Linked DNA regions of Homo sapiens: region 1 is linked to region 2. A link means that fine-mapping ties the variant in region 2 to the expression of a gene that starts in the linked region. Tissue or cell type: whole blood. Region 2 holds a variant in brackets; the other region holds the start of a gene. All regions are shown on one strand. Distances are between the middles of the regions.

What was found. PIP is the estimated chance that this variant, and not a neighbour inherited with it, causes the effect.
Region 1: MED22 starts here. The variant in region 2 is fine-mapped to the expression of MED22 in whole blood (TOPMed, PIP 0.96).

What each region holds. Positions count from the first base shown.
Region 1 is chr9:133,344,979-133,352,978 of GRCh38, forward strand. MED22 (mediator complex subunit 22) reads right to left here and starts at 3,153. Exons shown (of 5, transcript NM_133640.5): 1 at 2,944-3,153; 2 at 1,562-1,722; 3 at 194-274. The coding sequence starts at 1,684. RPL7A (ribosomal protein L7a) reads left to right here and starts at 3,240. Exons shown (of 8, transcript NM_000972.3): 1 at 3,240-3,268; 2 at 3,944-4,064; 3 at 4,573-4,722; 4 at 4,934-5,074; 5 at 5,262-5,341; 6 at 5,619-5,749; 7 at 6,024-6,093; 8 at 6,284-6,448. The coding sequence starts at 3,266. The coding sequence ends at 6,388. SURF1 (SURF1 cytochrome c oxidase assembly factor) reads right to left here. Exons shown (of 9, transcript NM_003172.4): 6 at 7,716-7,788; 7 at 7,468-7,630; 8 at 7,083-7,164; 9 at 6,780-7,004. The coding sequence ends at 6,935. It overlaps SNORD24 (small nucleolar RNA, C/D box 24), which reads left to right and starts at 4,418; the gene lies at 4,418-4,492. It also overlaps SNORD36B, SNORD36A and SNORD36C. RefSeq lists enhancers at 726-1,229, 1,230-1,731, 3,036-3,330, 3,192-3,661.
Region 2 is chr9:133,319,288-133,329,131 of GRCh38, forward strand. It overlaps SURF6 (surfeit 6), which reads right to left. Exons shown (of 5, transcript NM_006753.6): 5 at 9,489-9,844. Among named protein-coding and RNA genes, the nearest start is that of SURF6, 12 kb to the right of the region's middle. The variant ACAGGTGGACAGGTG/A (reference allele first, on the strand shown) is at 4,838.

The DNA of each region.
Region 1 (8,000 bases), 25 kb after region 2:
ATGATTTGCCCCCACCTCATTCTTTAAAGCTGCCGAGTGGTGAAACCAAAGCATCTCTACATTTGCCTCCTTCTGCTCCTTCTCGGGGGAAGAAGACCAGACCAGCCCCAGAGCCCCCTCCACTCCACCCAGGAAACCTGAGGGGACTGATGCTCTTGGAGCCCAGGCCGTGCCCTCCACCCTGGCCACTCACGATGTTGGCGGCTCGCACATGCATCTCGTAATTGTCCTGTTCACCCTGAGTGGCCCGTGACACCTGCGTCTCGTCCTCAATCTGGGGGAAAACAAGAAAACCTAGAAATCAACCCAGCCAAGGCATCCCCACCCCTGGCCCGGCCCAGCCCAGCTTACGGTAACTGTCATCTACCCAGGATGTCCACACTGGCCACAACCTGTCTGTGGTGCCATCTACAGACCTAAGCGCTGTCAGCCAGACCTCTGACAAGGTTCAATTCCACCCTCTCTTGTTCTGGCCATGGGAGACAACATGCACCTTTGCTCAAGACAAATAGAGGCAACCCACGCTGCTTGCTGTACTAGGTGCAGGGATGGGGGCTTATCTTGGCCCGGTCTTTTTGGGCTGTGGGAGCCCTGTTTGGTAGGAACCGTTGTCACTTGCTTGGCATTTGGTAAACTGTTGGATGAGTGAAGGGATGATTTAAGTTTTTTTTCGCGACCATTTCCTGATCACTTCCCAGGTGCCAGGCTGTGTCATGCACTTGACCACCATTAACCCATGCCAGTTTCACAGAAGCCTGGCCTGCCACCCCTGGTGTATAGGTGGCCAAGCGAGGCTGGATGGGGCTTCCCGGCAGGCCTTGCAAAGGCTCAGTTCGGGGTGGGTGTCAGGTACCCTCAGTGGTTAAGACCCAGACTTCGTGGGTTCAAATCCTGGCTCAGCCAGTTGTGAGCTGAGTGACCTTGGGCAAGTCACTAAGTCTCCTGGGCCTGGGTTTCCTCCTGAAATGAAGAGGACAACAGTGCCCACCTCACAGAGTCCTCATGAAGATTCAGCAGAACAGGCACAGATAACCTCACAACGTGGCTTGATACATGGCAAGCACTAAGTACATGCTAGCTTCCATCCTCATCATCATCGCTTATGGAGCCTGCCAGGTCTGCAGCAGCCAGGAGGGATCCAGCCCAATCTGATGCAGCTGTAGCTGCAGTGGTCAGCAGGCTTGCAGGCCCCAGTGCTGACCGCTCCACCTGCCTGGAGGCCCCCCCCCACTTCTCCCCTCAGTCTGCTTTTCTCCTGCTCATTGGCTGTGTGCCAGGCCCCGAGGTAACTGTTTTACACAGATAAACTCACCAGTCATCACAAGGACCCCACCATGCAGGAGAAACTGAGGCACTAAAAAGTGAAATCTCCATCCAAATCCATACTGTTAGTAAGGGCTGGACGTGCCATTATTTGGTTTGCTTATCTACTGACCAGCTCCCTGTGCACTGGGTGCTTCCTGCCTAGAACACTATTCACTCGCGCTGCTCAGCCCCTGGCCTCTCCTGTCTCCACCCCTTCTCAGACTCTGCTCCCCTTGGTGGGCCACCCCACCCCCACCTTGGCGGTCTTGATGATCTCGGTGAAGTTGTCCATGATGGACTTAATGTCGTCCTTCAGCCGCTTGTTGTAGGACTGCAGCAGCGTCTCCTTGCTCTGGGGCAGGGCTCTCTGCTGGGCCATGGCCGAGCCTCAAGCAGCGCAGCGGGGAGACCTGGGACCTAGAGTGCAGCACAGACCTCTGAGTGCAGGCAGAGTCTACCCCAGCCACCCTCTATGCCCCAACCTTAGCAGAACACGCAGATTTCTGGGGATTCCCTTTCTGCCAAATAAAGTCAATCACTGAAACACAGATGAACTCATTCCATCAGCAGACACCGCAGGGGGTGCCAGGACTGGCCCCGCCTTTGCCAGAGCAAGCTCATCCTGGAACTCCTGGCCAGCCCTCCAAGCCCTGTCCAGGGCTCCAGTCCAGACTTCACGTCCAGGCCCACAGCGTGTCCCAGGGAGCCCTGCAAACTCAACACCAGCTCCCCGTCCCCAGCCCTTGGCTTAACTTCTTAGCCCGCCGCCACCTTCGCCACGCCCTCCCATCCGAAGAGTCCTTCCAATTCGACCCCTCTGCACCGCCTACATCCACGCTTTCCTTCCACTCCCACTCAGGCTGCCCCGCTCCAGACCTCATCCCTGCACTGCGGGCCCCGCTCCCTCCAGTCTCTGCGCGGCAGGGAAGAGGTCCTAAAAAGTGGTCATTCCAACCGGGCGCGGTGGCTCACGCCTGTAATCCCAGCACTTTGGGAGGCCGAGGCAGGGATCACCTGAGGTCAGGAGTTTGAGACTAGCCTGACCAACATGGTGAAACCCCAACTCTACTAAAAATACAAAAATTAGCCGGGCGTGATGGCAGGCGCCTGTAATCCCAGCTACTCGGGAGGCTGAGGCAGGAGAATCGCTTGAACCCGGGAAGCACAGGTCGCAGTGAGCCGAGATCGCGCCACTGCACTCCAGCCTGGGCGACAGGGGGAGACTACGTCTCCAAAAGAAAAAAAAAAGGGGGGTAATTCCACTCCCTCGCTTAACATCCCTCATGGTTCCCCGGTGCGCCGGGACAAGGGGCTCAAGTTCCGCGCCGCGCCTCTCGGCCTCTGCCCTCCAGCCGCACTGGACGGCCTCGGCGCTGGAGTTGCCTGGCCCTGGGGCCGGGCCTTTGCGCGCGGTGCTCAGGGAGGGCCCGGGGCCCCCTAGGTTCGGAGTCTGGCGCACGACCGAGCGGACTCCTGGACGCACTCGCATTGTTTGTGCCCATTTTTGGCGGGGTGTGGGAAATAAGTCACACGCAGGAAAGGGGATCTCCGACCCCAGCGCCTACGCACCCACCCACCCCCACTCCCGCCCACACACCCACCCCCCCTCCATCCCCACCCCCCACCACACCCTCATACCCGCCCCAGCGCCCGCACACCAGACGCCGCGTCCGCCGGGTCGGCCTAGGGCGGGGTGGTCAAGTGCCTCTGCGACCCGCACTTTCCCGCGTCTCTCCCACGGCCTGGCCCTCCCGCCGCAGTCTCTCTTCCCCGCCGCGCCGCGGTCCGAAAACCTAGTCAGCCGCCGCAGCCTCTCGGCCCCGCCTCGATTTTTAGCTTTATAGGAATGCTGTTGCTTTAAATCCGAAATCCCGTGCCGGTATCAACTCTCGCGATCTCCGAGGCCGCATACATATTACCCACAATTCCCTTTCCTTTCTCTCTCCTCCCGCCGCCCAAGATGGTGAGTGAGCTGTAGTTCCGTGGCACTATAGCCAGGTTCCGGCTGTATCCGCTGCCATCCTCCTCCAGGCGCGGCCTCGGAGGGCCTCCTGCTCCTCCTGGCGCTAGGAGAGCCCCACTCGGTGTGGCACGGAGACACCGAGGTGGATTAGAGCCCCACTTGGTGTGGCACGGAGACATTGAGATGGACTAGAGCCCCGGGCGGCCGAGAGCGGAATGCGTTGTTCCCGGTGTCGCAGGGCTGGGTGTCGCAGGCCTGGAGCACCGCAGTGCGGGGCTCGGAGCCCTAGCGTCTCTCGGGCTTGCTGGGGGCCGCTCCAGAGGCCTTGTGAGCGACGAGTTCTGAGCCCGCCCCTGTTGCTTCTAGAGCCTGTGGGGCCGCGACTCAGAGGAGTCATGAGTCCGGGGTGTCTCCTGGGTGGGCGACGCGAAGAGAGCGTGGTCTCGGGCTTAGCCTTGCTCTGGCCACTCGGGGTTCCCGGGGCTGCATGCTTGTGCGGCTGAATGTGAGATGCTCCTGTCGAGGGGTGGTGCTGGGGGGTTGCAGAAAGCTGCTCGCCAGCTTAGTTCAGGCAGGTGCTGTCAGCGTCCCTTGTTTTGGAGGAGCCAGCCTGAGCCCTACCCCCGACGAAGCGAGTGGAGGCGGCGGTTTAACTGACGTTTTCTTTCTGCCCAGCCGAAAGGAAAGAAGGCCAAGGGAAAGAAGGTGGCTCCGGCCCCAGCTGTCGTGAAGAAGCAGGAGGCTAAGAAAGTGGTGAATCCCCTGTTTGAGAAAAGGCCTAAGAATTTTGGCATTGGTAAGTAACAAACGGCAGAATGAAAACGGTCTATGTTTTTCTCAAGGGAAGGTGGTAATTGGGTTGTGTTGTATCTTGTAGGTTTTAGTGGGTGTAAAGTGGTCGCAGTCCTTAATTTGTGTCTCTTAGAGACGGGGGCAATGATACATGCTTCTTGCTTTCATTGGGAGTTGCTGAGCGAGCATTCAGCTCAATATGGTAGTGGCCTTGAATTCAGCTTAGCCATCTGGAAACAAGTACAGTAGCAGTGTCGCAGCGAGGTACTAGGACTGCAATTCTGCTGTACTTCGTGGCACCTTGGCTTCTTGTTAGATGAGGAAAAGCATCGTGCTCTTTGTTCTCAGGTGTTTGTGTGCAGATGATGTAAAAGAATATTTGCTATCTGAGAGATGGTGATGACATTTTAAACCACCAAGATCGCTGATGCACCAACACCCTTCCTAGTGGCCCCAGACATGAACTTGACATGGAATTTGAGCCTCACTCGGTGTCACCCTTTACTTCTCAGGACAGGACATCCAGCCCAAAAGAGACCTCACCCGCTTTGTGAAATGGCCCCGCTATATCAGGTTGCAGCGGCAGAGAGCCATCCTCTATAAGCGGCTGAAAGTGCCTCCTGCGATTAACCAGTTCACCCAGGCCCTGGACCGCCAAACAGGTGAGGTTCTGTGGCGTGGAAAGGAGTTTCTCAGGCAAGGATTCCTTATTTCATCCAGAACATGAGGGGGATGGTCTTAGGCTTCTTGAACTGCAGTTGTCATTAAATTATAGTCATATAGCAGGACCGCAGTCCAGCATTTGTTATTAAGTGTTAAGTGACAAGGATTAGAACCTTGACTCCAAGCCTAAACTGAAGAGTGTTTTTCCAGCTACTCAGCTGCTTAAGCTGGCCCACAAGTACAGACCAGAGACAAAGCAAGAGAAGAAGCAGAGACTGTTGGCCCGGGCCGAGAAGAAGGCTGCTGGCAAAGGGGACGTCCCAACGAAGAGACCACCTGTCCTTCGAGCAGGTGAGTAGGCCCCACCTTAGGGTGAACACTGGGGGCGGGCTGTTGCAGTGATGTAAAATTTCTTGGCCTGAAATTACTGTGAAGAGTAAAACCGAGCTTTTTAACACTGAGTCAGCAGCTGAGCCCAGCAGCTTCTTGTGACTAGAGCAGGCCCTGTGAGTGCTCACAAAGTGGTTGTGTGTTCTAGGAGTTAACACCGTCACCACCTTGGTGGAGAACAAGAAAGCTCAGCTGGTGGTGATTGCACACGACGTGGATCCCATCGAGGTGCGTTTGCCTGTTGACTGCTAACCCAAGGGCTTCTGGCAGTACCAGGAAGAGAGAGTAGACCTAATGCCAAGTCAGTGATGGGACCGAAGTGGGTGAGGGCAGTACTGACACAGATCCAACACATGCGTGGCTCTTGCAATGATGTGAATCTCTCACTGAATTCAACCTTGAAGTGCGAATCCATGAGCTTTTTAACCCTGAGCAATTGTTACAAGCTAACTGAAATTTGCTGCTTTTGGTCAAAATACAGTCTTCAGCTAATGCTTTCTTCCAGCTGGTTGTCTTCTTGCCTGCCCTGTGTCGTAAAATGGGGGTCCCTTACTGCATTATCAAGGGAAAGGCAAGACTGGGACGTCTAGTCCACAGGAAGACCTGCACCACTGTCGCCTTCACACAGGTGAACTCGTAAGTACACAGCCTGGCCCCAAACTTCCCCCCAGTTCATTTAATCCATGCCTCACAGTTGTTTCCTTTTGCCTTAAAGGCCAATCTTTTAGTTTAAGAAATATATTTATCTGAACTTTTGCCAATGATGGTTAAGAATTTCTTCACCTGAATAAACCATGTGGTCAGCATTGCATCTGAGGCAAAAGACTGTCTTGAGCTAAAAGGTATTTTTGCATTCTAAAAGGGAAACTAAGGCAAAAAACCCACTTTTGTTTCCCCTCCTGCCTTTTAGGGAAGACAAAGGCGCTTTGGCTAAGCTGGTGGAAGCTATCAGGACCAATTACAATGACAGATACGATGAGGTAAGAGGCAGCTTTACACCAAAATACTGTCATTCACAAATCTTTCTCCCAAATAACTGGCTGGCTTAACCTATGAGAAGTTCTATCTGACGATCAGCTTGGAACAGCCAAACAGAATTAACGCAACTAATAACCTTGAAAATCTCAGAAAACAGTAAGCCAAGCTAACTGCCTCTTTTTGTCTTTTCAGATCCGCCGTCACTGGGGTGGCAATGTCCTGGGTCCTAAGTCTGTGGCTCGTATCGCCAAGCTCGAAAAGGCAAAGGCTAAAGAACTTGCCACTAAACTGGGTTAAATGTACACTGTTGAGTTTTCTGTACATAAAAATAATTGAAATAATACAAATTTTCCTTCAGCCAGTGTCTGTTGAGTATCTCGGGTTGAATCTTACTTGGGGTTAGCAAGTATCTTTTTGAGACACAGCCTCACTCTGTCGCCCAGGCTGGAGTGCAGTGGTGTGATGTCAAAGCAACCTTCGCCTCCCAGGTTTAGGATATTCTGGTGCCTCAGCATCCCAACTGGCTGGCCCATATTTGTGTTTTTGGTAGAGATGGGGTTTCACCATGTTAGCCAGGCTGGTCTGAGCTCCTGACCGCACCCGGCCCTTCCCACCCTTAAATACATTCTTAAACCAGGCATTTTGTTCCCTAGAGATGTAACTTGAGTATCAAGTTTTGGGAAAGTTCTTTGGACTGAAACCAAGCCAGGATTTTATGATGAACCAGTCATGAGCTCATTTAAGGTAGAAGGCCAGAACTTTATACCAGTAGCACATGATCCAGCATAAAGGCAGTCTTGAAATACTGCATTATCCAGGGACAGGGCTTCAGCAGCTGATCTGTCACACACCAGGTGTCCCACGTAGGAATTTCTTAAACCACAGGTAGGATGTAGCTGCAGAGAGTCCATACCTAGGGGTTGAAAGCAAGCCAGCATTAGCAGGCTGCTAGGCTGAAGGGGAGGAAGCCAGAGGGCCGCTGGGGACTCACCAGGTCACGATGTACTGCAGATGCTCGTTCCTCAGAGTAACTCTGGTTTGCCCTCCAATGGGTCCTCCAGGGACTGTGCTCTCTGTGGAGACAGCAGACTCAAGTCCACCCCCTACTGGCCTGCCAGCCTCTGCACCACTTCCTAGTGGCTGTCATTTTTGCGTGGCCAGTTGGAAGTCCTGTATGGCCTTTACGTTGGGTGACCATCCCCGCCCTTGTCCGCTCAGTACTTGCCTAGGTTCTTTGCTGAGTTGCTGCCTCCTCCCACCCGCCATATACACATGTGAGAACATAAGCCACAGTAGTGACTGGGCAATGAGGGTTAGGAGGAAGGACAGTATTCACAAAAGCTACTTGTTCCGAGATGGGCTGGTCCACAACGTACGGAAGTTGGCATCAATGAAGATGGGCTCTGCGCCTGTGATTCTGGCCATAGCTTCCAGGTCTCGATAATGCCAGTGGTTCCTTTCTGGATTGTTCTCAGGGACAAAAGGCTGCCTGGTTTCTGTCAGCCTCACCATCCCAATGAGGTCCACTTCTCCCTCAATCTATAAAGGAAGGTGTGTGAGATTGCATGGAGCCTGGTGGACTCCCAGAGCCTTCTCTAAAGTAGGAAGAGTCCATGTCCCTTACCTGGCCTTTCTGCCGGGTTTCAGGATTCACTTTCTTCCTGGGAACGAACCCTCTATTTACCAGGATGGTGACTCTAGGGTAATGAAAGTGCTACTTCAGGTGGGGAGGGTTTTTGACTAAAGACAGTCACTCATGGTCACTCAGGCACCCATAGGAACAACTAGAGCACCAAGGAAGGCTTTTAAAACAGGGCTGGCTCAGTGGAGCCCTGGCAGTGCCACACAGGCAAAGTCTTCCTCTCTTGAGGCACCTTCGTGGTTGGTAAAAGGCTCCCTGCCACCATCA
Region 2 (9,844 bases):
ATGATCCACCCGCCTTGACTTCCCAAAGTGCTGGGATTACAGGCGTGAGCCACTGAGCCCAGCTGTAAGGTTCTTATACTAGATGAAGGTAGACTGTGATAAATTAAAGACATACTATAAACCCTAAAGCACCTGTTAAAGTCAACAAACAAACAAGAAAACAAAAGACTGTCAGTGAATAAGACAACAAATAAACTGAAAAGATTGTTTTAAAAACTAAATTCAAAAGAAGACCAGTAAGAGGGAAAGGGGCCTGGCGCAGTGGCTCACGCCTGTAATCCCAACACTTTGGGAGGCTGAGGTGGGCAGATCACTTTAGGTCAGGAGTTCAAGACCAGCCTCACCAAGATGGTGAAACCCTGTCTCTACCAAAAATACAAAAATTATCCAGGCATCGTGGCATGCACCTGTAGTCCCAGCCACTCAGGAGGCTGAGGCAGGAGAATCACTTAAGCCTGGGAGGCGGAGGTTGCAGTGAGCCGAGACTGTGCCACTGCACTCCAGCCTGGGCGACAGAGTGAGACTCTGTCTCAAAAAGAAAAGAAAGAAAAAAAAATCCATGGCAGACAGAGGCCCTGCAGTGGGATCGGGGTGAAAGTCCAGCATCTGTGACCTCAGACGTGTCACATCCTTGCTCATCACAGCTTCAGCATCGATCACACTGGCATTCATTCATTCAAGAGACATTTGCTGGCTGGGCGCAGAGGCTCACACCTGTAATCCCAGCACTTTGGGAGGCCAAGACCAGTGGATCACCTGAAGTCAGGAGTTCAAGACCAGCCTGCCCAACATGGTGAAACCCTGTCTCTACTAAAAATACAAAAATGTTAGCTGGGCGTGGTGTCAGGCACCTGTAATCCCAGCTACTCGGGAGGCTGAGGCAGGAGAATCACTTGATCCTGGGAGGTGGAGGTTGCAGTGAGCCAAGATAGCACCATTGCACTCCAGCCTGGGCAACGAGAGCGAAACTCTGTCTTAAAAAAAAAAAAGAGAGAGAGAGAATTGCTGAACGCCCACTAAGTGCCAGGCACCATTCTGGTTGCGGCCTCATTGCTGAATAATGCGGGCAGAAACCCCAACTCCGTGGAGTGCCTGCTTGGTGAGAAGACTCCCTTGTAGAACTCTGTGAGGGTCAGAGACGATGGATGGGAGGTCCTGCCAGGAGGAGGCGCTCAGGAAGTTTCTTCGCTGCTCCTCCCCACTCCTTCACTCCTTTCTTGTTGCTCCTCTTTCAGGCCTGGGTGTTTGGGGAGCTTCATTCTCTCATTCCACAGATATGCCTGCAGTGCCCCGCCTGGCCTGTGCTGAGCCTGGTCCAGGTTTGTTGAATGCAGACGTGCTCAGAGAGGTCATTCCGGCTGCTGGTCACTGGGAACTCCGTTGCATCTGCCTCGGGCCCAGGTGCCCCCCTTTCACTGGAGCATCAGCGAAGAGCAGTCACCCCCCTCCCCGCCCTGGGTATGGCAGGCCCAGGCTGCAGAGCTTTCTTCGTGAAAAAGGAGCTAAACATGATCAAGATCTTGCCACGGCCCAGGCAGGAGTCTCACCACACTGCTGGTGTCATCTCATGAGACTGCACAACAAACCTTCGCAGCAGGTCCCCGAGTGTACCCTTTCACAGCTATGGACAGGACCCAAAAGTCTGAGTCGAGCGTGTGTGTCACTACCCTGTATGTGGATTCACAGCCTCTGGCTATCTTAGAAGGTCCTTCCCCCATGGCCTGGCTCTGCCCGTGAACCGTTGAATGTCTCTGCTCCCTTTGCCACTTCCGCCTTCCTGATACTGGGGAACCAGGTCATCTCTCTACTCTTTCCTGGAATCTTCTCTTTTCCAAGGATCATGGTGACTGAGAAACTGAGGAGCTGCACAGGCCCAAGACAAGCCCTCTCCCACCAGCCCACAAATGTACTGCCCATGGGCCGGGCATGGTGGCTCATGCCTATAATCCCAGCACTTTGGGAGGCCGAGGCGGGCGGATCACCTGAGGTCAGGAGTTCGAGACCAGCCTGGCCAACATGGTGAAACCCCATCTCTACTAAAAATATAAAAATTAGCCGGGTGTGGTGGTGTGCACCTGTAATAGCCACTCAGGAGGCTGAGGCAGGAGCATCGCTTGCACCTGGGAGACAGAGGTTGCAGTGAGCTGAGATCGCACCACTGCACTCCATTCTGGGTGACAGAACAAGAGTCCATTTCAAAAAAATAAAAAATGTACTGTCCATGTTTACTGATGACTTTATGTAGTTAGTGGATCCTGCCAGCACAGCCACAGTTCCTGCTGATCTCTGTCCCGCAGTTGACCACCCCGTCTGTGTTTTTGCCCCAGCCTGTATTGCTGGGCTTGAGTCTTCTGTCCTCACGACCCTCACCGGGGACTCAGACACAGCCCTTCTGCTCTGGGGACATGTCAGTCCTTGGCCTGAGCGTCCAGGCTCTGCGCGGCCCCGTTGTCCTTACAGGGACTCCGTCCCTGGGGAAACTTCCCACGTGTCAGAACCTTCCCTTCCTTTGTTTGAGAAAACAAAAAATTCTTCCTCTCTTGACCAGGAGCAGTGGCTCACGCTGGTAATCCCAGCACTTTGGGAGGCCGAGACAGGAGAATTGCTTGAGGCCAGGAGTTCAAGACCAACATAGCAAGATCCCATCTGTTTATAGATCTATATCTATGTATCATCTCTCTATATAGTACATGTAATATGTATATAATATATAATAATCATATATATAATTCTTCCTTTTTTGCGGGGGGAGGGGGTTGGAGTCTCACTCTGTCACCCAGGCTGGAGTGCAGTGGCATGATCTAGGCTCACTGCAACCTCCCCGTCCTGGTTCAAGCGATTCTCCTGTCTCAGCCTCCCAAGTAGCTGGAACTACAGGCATGTGCCACCGCATCTGGCTAATTTTTGTATCTTTTTTTTTTTTTTTTTTTTGAGATGGAGTTTCACTCTGTCGCCCAGGCTGGAGTGCAATGGTGGGATCTCAGCTCACTGCAACTTCCGCCTCCCTGGTTCAAGTGATTCTCCTGCCTCAGTCTCCCAAGCAGCAGGGATTAGGCGCCTGCCACCACACCTGGCTAATTTTTTGTATTTTCAGTAGAGATGGGGTTTCACCATGTTAGCCAGGCTGGTCTTGAACTCCTGACCTCAGGTGATCCGCCCGCCTCGGCCTCCCCAAGTGTTGGGATTACAGGCGTGAGCCACTGTGCCTGGCCAATTCTTCCTTTCTTGAATGCCCTTTTCTGCCATCCTAATTTTCCCATCGTTCAGGGTCAAGGTTGATGCTCACCTTCCCCAGTAAGCCCTCCCTGATGTCTTCCCAATTCCTGTGGGGTAAGCAGGGCAGCTCAGTGGCTGAAGGCACATGCGTCACAGCCAGGAAGCCCTGGTTTTCGCTCTGACCCCACTGCTTCTGGCTGACCCTGGAGAAGCCATCCACGCTGAGCTGCAGAAGGGCCACTACAGCCTGTGTGCAGCCCTCACAAGGCGTATACGGGAATTACTGCAGCGATACGGGGGATTCCTCGAGGAGCTCACTGAGCATGCAGGTGTTACACCCCAGAGCGCGCTGAAATCATTCAAATGAGCCAAGCCTAAGCCTCCCTACCGCCTCGCCCACCCCCTCCCATGGAAACCACATTACGGGCTTCACCCACAGTTCTGCCCTCTCCTGCCTCCTGACCGACTCCAGCACTTCCCCGTGTGGCCCTGTGTGGCTTGGGGTACCCCTTCTCCTGGAAACTGTCGTAAACTATCCTTTCAATGGCAATTATCTCCTGATCTGGTGGCCTTACTGAACCTCAAATTTTCAATAAATACGTTGTTTTTTAAGCCAGGCTTAATAGCATGCACTTGTGGTCTCAGCTACTTGGGAGGCTGAGGTGGGAGGATCGCTTGAGGCCAGGAGTTTGTGGCCGCAGTGCAGTATAATTGCACCTGTGAAGAGCCACTGCACTCCAGCCTGGGCAACGCAGGGAGACCCTGTGTCCAAAAAATAATTATTATATTTTAAAGACAAGCAGACTATGCATGGAGTCCCGAGGGTGAACAGGTGTCGGGGGGCAGCGGGAGCGTGGAGAAAGCCGGGAGGAGGTGGGAACAGGAAACCCTCAGGGTCACACCCCAGAAGGAGAAGGCCCTAGCCTGAATGGGACTGCTGGGAAGGGGCTGAACACCAGCAGGGAGTGGAGCTGCGGAAACACACACGGAAGTGGGGCATGGGTGCTGGGTGGACACTCCACTTCCAGATAAGAGGGGATCTTGTGGATGGTGGTGGAGGCGCTCCTGGCCCTACTGGGCTCCGGCACTCAGCCTGCCCTGCCACAGAGGCAGCCCATACTAGAGGCTACTGCACGTCAGGAGAGGGGCAGGCTCAAAACCAGAAAAGTTATACTCTGGGCTCTGCCAGCCCCACCCTCCCAATCCAGGAAACCCAATTCATCCAAATATGAGTATCAATATCCACCCAAAGATACCAGAGGGAAAAAAGAAACCTAAAAGGAGCGGGTGGCCAGTGCAGTGCTCACTCCTGAATCCCAGCACTTTGGGAGGCTGAGGCGGGAGGATCGCTTAAGCCCAGGAGGTCAAGACTGCAGTGAGTTGTGACTATGTCACTGCACTCCAGCCCAGGCAACAAAGCAAGACCCTGTCTCAAAAACAAACAAACAAAAAGGGAACAGCAAGACTTCCCTGCAGATGAAGAAAACACAGAGAAAACCACTGCCACAAAGCCAAGTGAAAGTGGCAAGCCAGCGGGCAGCCCCATGATGCAGCTGGGGAAGTGGCCAGGGGAGTGGCTGCAGCGGAAATGGCCATGGGGAACTCTGCGGCCCCAGGAAGA[ACAGGTGGACAGGTG/A]CTGGTGGAACTTAGGAAGGACTGGAAGCAAAGGCCACAGACACAAGTCTAGAGATGCTGTGGAAAGTGCAGCCAGGAAGAAACAGGGACGTGAAGAGGCACAACAGCAGCAGAGCAAGCAGGCAGGAGAGGCGGTGGCGGGGGAGGCAGCAGCAGGGGAAGCAGCGGTGGGGAGGCAGCAGCAGGCAGGTCCTTGGCTGGCAGGGCAGAGCCAAGACAGGACAGACTCCAAGGTAGAAGTCCAGACAACTTTGCTAAAACAAACGAATTGAGGCGGAGCATTACTGCTGAGCTTTGCCTCCTGTCAGATCAGCGGTGGCATTAGATCTTCATAGAAGTGCAAACCCTACTGTGAACTGCGCATGCGAGGGATCTAGGTTGCTCACTCCTAATGAAAATCTAATGCCTGATGATCTGAAGTGGCACAGTTTCATCCCCAAACCATCCCTCCCACCACCCCTACTGTCCATGGAAAAATTGTCTTCCAAGAAACCAGTCACTGGGGCAAAAAATGTTGGTCAAAAGTACCGCTGTACTAGAGTGAATTTTAGTTAACTGAGAGATGATCACAGATAGTAAGAGGAACAGGGAGTGAGCACTCACATATTCAACTAGAGGACAGGGACCGAGATAAAAACAGCAGCAAGTTGTGATGGGTACGTACGGTGTGTTCCCTGCCAAATCCACACACTGATGTCTTAACCCCAAGCACCACAGAACGTGACCTTGTTTGGAAATGGTGTCACTGCAAATGTTATTAGTTAAGATGAGGTCACTAAGGTGGGCTCTAATCCAATGTGACTGGTGTCCTTATTATAAGAAGAGGCAATCAGGACCCACAGACAGGCACAGGGGGAAGATGAGAGGATGCTGTTTGCAGGCCAAGGACAGCACCCAGGAACAGCCTTCACTCAGGGTCCTCAGAAGAAACCAACCCTGCTGATGTCTGGACTGGACCCCTGCCCTCCAGAGCTGTGAACAATGAATTCCTCTCACCTAAGCTGCTCTGCGGTGCTTTGTTAATGGCAGCCCTAGCAAACTCATACACAAAGGTAACAGAATGTGTAAAAAAACAATTTTACAAAGGCAGCTATAACAGTATGAGACAAGAAAGCAGAGAGAGGATGGAAAATAGAATCGCCCTGCTGATTCCTTCATATTATAGTTGGATTCTAAAGACATCACTTAATGCTGACAAACTGAGAAGTTTAGCATATTAAAGAGGACAGAGGCAAATACTAAGAAATATAATAGTATTCATTCAAAAAATGGGTGGGCCGGGCATGGTGGCTCACACCTGTAATCCCAGCACTTTGGGAGGCCGAGGCAGGTGGATCACCTGAGGTCAGGAGTTCGAGACCAGCCTGGCCAACATGGTGAAATCCATCTCTACTAAAAATACAAAAATTAGCCAGGCTTGGTGGCGCGCATCTGTAATCCCAGCTACTAGGGAGGCTGGAGCAGGAGAATCGCCTGAACCTGGGAGGTAGAGGTTGCAGTGAGCTGAGATGGCGCCATTCCACTCCAGCCTGGGTGACAGAGCGAGGCCTGTCTCAAAAAAAAAAACAAAAAAAACCATGGGTGGTAGAAAAGAGAGAGAAGGGAGAGAGGGGAAAGGTTTACAAATTATTTCATAGTAGGGAACTATGAGAACTCTTTTAAAGGTTGAGGGGACTAAAGATATTATTTAAGGGTATGAACAGTAAGTAGCAACTAGACCCAAAAAAAATCAAGCCTTCCTAAAAACCAGAAGAGCTACATTTTTTAAGAGCAAATGCAGATTAAGTAATGACTATATGTAGTAAATGTGAAATAAAACAATTTCAAAAAGAACAAAGTTGGAAGACTCATGCTACCCGATTTCAACACTTACTATAGAGCTGCAGTGATTAAGACGGTGTGGCGCTGGCGAAAGGTTCAGGGGAACAGAACACACAGTTTAGAAATAGACCTACACAGATTTATGGCCAATTGATTTCAGATGAAGGTACAAGGGCAATTCTACGAAGACAGTCTTTTCAGCAACTGGTCCTGGAACACTGGACATCTTTATGCAAAAACGAACCTTCAAAATGGTTATGCCATTTTATTTATTTATTTATTTACTATTTTTTGAGATGGAGTCTTGCTCTGTCTTCCAGGCTGGAGTGCAGTGGCGACAGCTCGGCTCACTGCAACCTCCGTTTCCCAGGTTCAAGTGATTCTCCTGTCTCAGCCTCCCAAGTAGCTGGGATTACAGGCACCTGCCACCACGCCCGGCTAATTTTTATATTTTTAGTAGAGATGGATTTCACCATCTTGGTCGGGCTGGTCTTGAACTCCTGAGCTCAAGTGATCCACCTGCCTCGGCCTCCCAAAGTGCTGGGATTACAGGAGTGAGGCACCACGCCCGGCCACAAGTCCTTTATTATACTGTATGTTTTACAAATATTTTCTCCCACTGTGAGCCTTTTTATCTGTTTTCCTAATTTTTAATTTTTGATGAAGTGCAATAATTGACAGAATGAATAGATAGAAAATTGGCACCAGGTGCAGTGGCTCACGCCTGTAATCCCAGCACTTTGGGAGGCCGAGGAAGGCAGATCACCTGAGGTCGGGAGTTCGAGACCAGCCTGACCAACATGGAGAAACCCCATCTCTATTAAAAATACAAAATTAGCCGGGCATGGTGGCGCATGCCTGTAATCTCAGCTACTCAGGAGGCTGACAGGAGAACTGCTTGAACCCAGGAGACAGAGGTTGCAGTGAGCCAAGACCGCGCCATTGCACTCCAGCCTGGGCAACAAGAGCAAAACTCTGTCTCAAGAAAAAAAAAAGAAAGAAAGAAAGAAAAAAGAAAAGAAAATTGGCAAGGATACAGAACTTGAACTCCACTGGACCTGACATTAAAACACTTGACTCAACAAGAGCAGAAAACATTCTTCTCGAGCACACACAGAACATTTACCAGGAGAGACCACAGTCTGGGCTATGAAACAAACCCTGTTAACTTCAAAAAGATTCAAGTGGTTTTTTGTTGTTTTTTGATACACGGTCTCACTCTGTTGCCCAGGCTGGAGTGCAGTGGCAGGAACATGGCTCACTGCAGCCTCAACCTCCTGGGCTCAAGTGATCCTCCCACCTCAGCTTTCTGAGTAGCTGGGACTATAGGCATAGGCGTGGGCAACCGCCCCAGGGTGATTTTTTAAATTTTTTTGTAGAGACAGGGTCTCGCTGCATTGCCCAGGCTGACCTCAATCTCCTGGGCTCAAATGATCCTCCTGCCTCAGCCTCCCAGTATCGGGATTACAGGTGTGAGCCACCACGCCCCAGCCAAGGACTCAAGTTATACAAAGTATGTTCTCTGACCACAATGAAATTCAACTAGAAATCAGTAACAGAAAGATCTCTGGTAAATTCCCAAATATTTGGAAACTAAATGACATACCTTTAAATAACTCATTAGCCAAAGAATAAATCAAAGGGAAATTAGCAAGTATTTTGAACTGAATGAAAACACAACATATGAAAATTCGTCAGGTATCACAAAAGCAGACTGAACTTTTTAGACCTTACAAATGCATGACTGTCCCCCTTGCCTCTGATCTTCTGCCTGGGGTCTGCCTTTCCCCAATCTTTGTTCACTATACTGAATCCTACATGACACAGTCAACCTATGAAGAAATCCAGAGATAGACTCTCTAAAATAAATGGATTTGGGAATAGCAGCTTATCTGGAATACTGCAACCGTTGAGGATGGTCTTGCAGTGAGTCCTGTTATTGGTCTGTTTGTAGAAATGTCTTGTGGTAAGTCCTGTTGCAGGAATGTGTGCGTGAGGGCTGCTTCATCACCTCCAACTGTTTTAGTTTGACATAAGTGACTCCATTTTGGTACCGGCAACGTTCACAACTTTCCATGTGACTTCAGCACCCTGCACCCCGATCCTTTCCCTGGCCACTTTGCAGGACCACTACCTATGAGACTATGGGTTCCTTGAGAGCTAGGGCTGGGTCTCATTCGCTCCTGAAACTTTCACCCAGCAGAGTGATGGCCCACGCCATGCATGACATGCGTTGCTCAATGACTGCATCCACTCAGCCAGTATGCCAGTCCCCACTGAGCCTCACTCTCAACCTCCCTGGCTGGCATAGGTTCCTTGTGCAGACATCCAGTGGCAGTAAAATATTGCTGGGTTCTCAGCTTCCCCCACCTGCAGCCCTCACTGGCCCACCCAGTTGTCCTGTCTCTGCTCAGGACGAGACCCCCCCCCGCCTCTTCAGTCTCTGTAGCCAGGTGATGGCAGTGGCCTTTTCCAGACCCTCACTGGCCCCTTAGTTCACTATGATGACTTCACCTCTTGGGAACCCATGGGGATGTCTTTCCCTCCAATACATCTACATTTGCCTGACCCAGAATGTAGTTTCAAGATGGGTCCATGCCTGGCTCCAAATCCCCTTATCAGAGTAAGGAAATACCTTAATTCCTAGTTTGCTAAAAACTCGTTATAAATGGCTGTCGCGTCATTTACTGTGTTCCTGTTCTGCAACCATTGAGATGGTCACGTGGGTTTTGCTCCTTTAATCTATTGATATGAATTACACTCTTGATTCTCTGGCATTGAAACTGCTTTGCAATTCTGAATTAAATCCAGTGTGGCACTTTGCTAAACTTGGTTTATTATTGTCTAAAATCTTGACATTGGTATTTGTAGGGACCAGCCCCACAGGGTCCGTGGGTCTCTCCCTCCCTGTGTGCAGCAATGAGAGAGTGTAGAAATACACACACAAGACAAAGAGATAAAAGAAAAGGCAGCTGGGCCCGGGAGACCACTACTACCAATGCTCGGAGACCGGTAGTGGCCCCGAATGTCTGGCTGCATTGTTATTTATTGGATACAAAGCAAAAGGGGCAGGGTAAAGAGTGTGAGTCATCTCCAATGATAGGTAAGGTCACGTGGATCACGTGTCCACTGGACAGGGTGCCCTTCCCTGCCTGGCAGCCGAGGCAGAGAG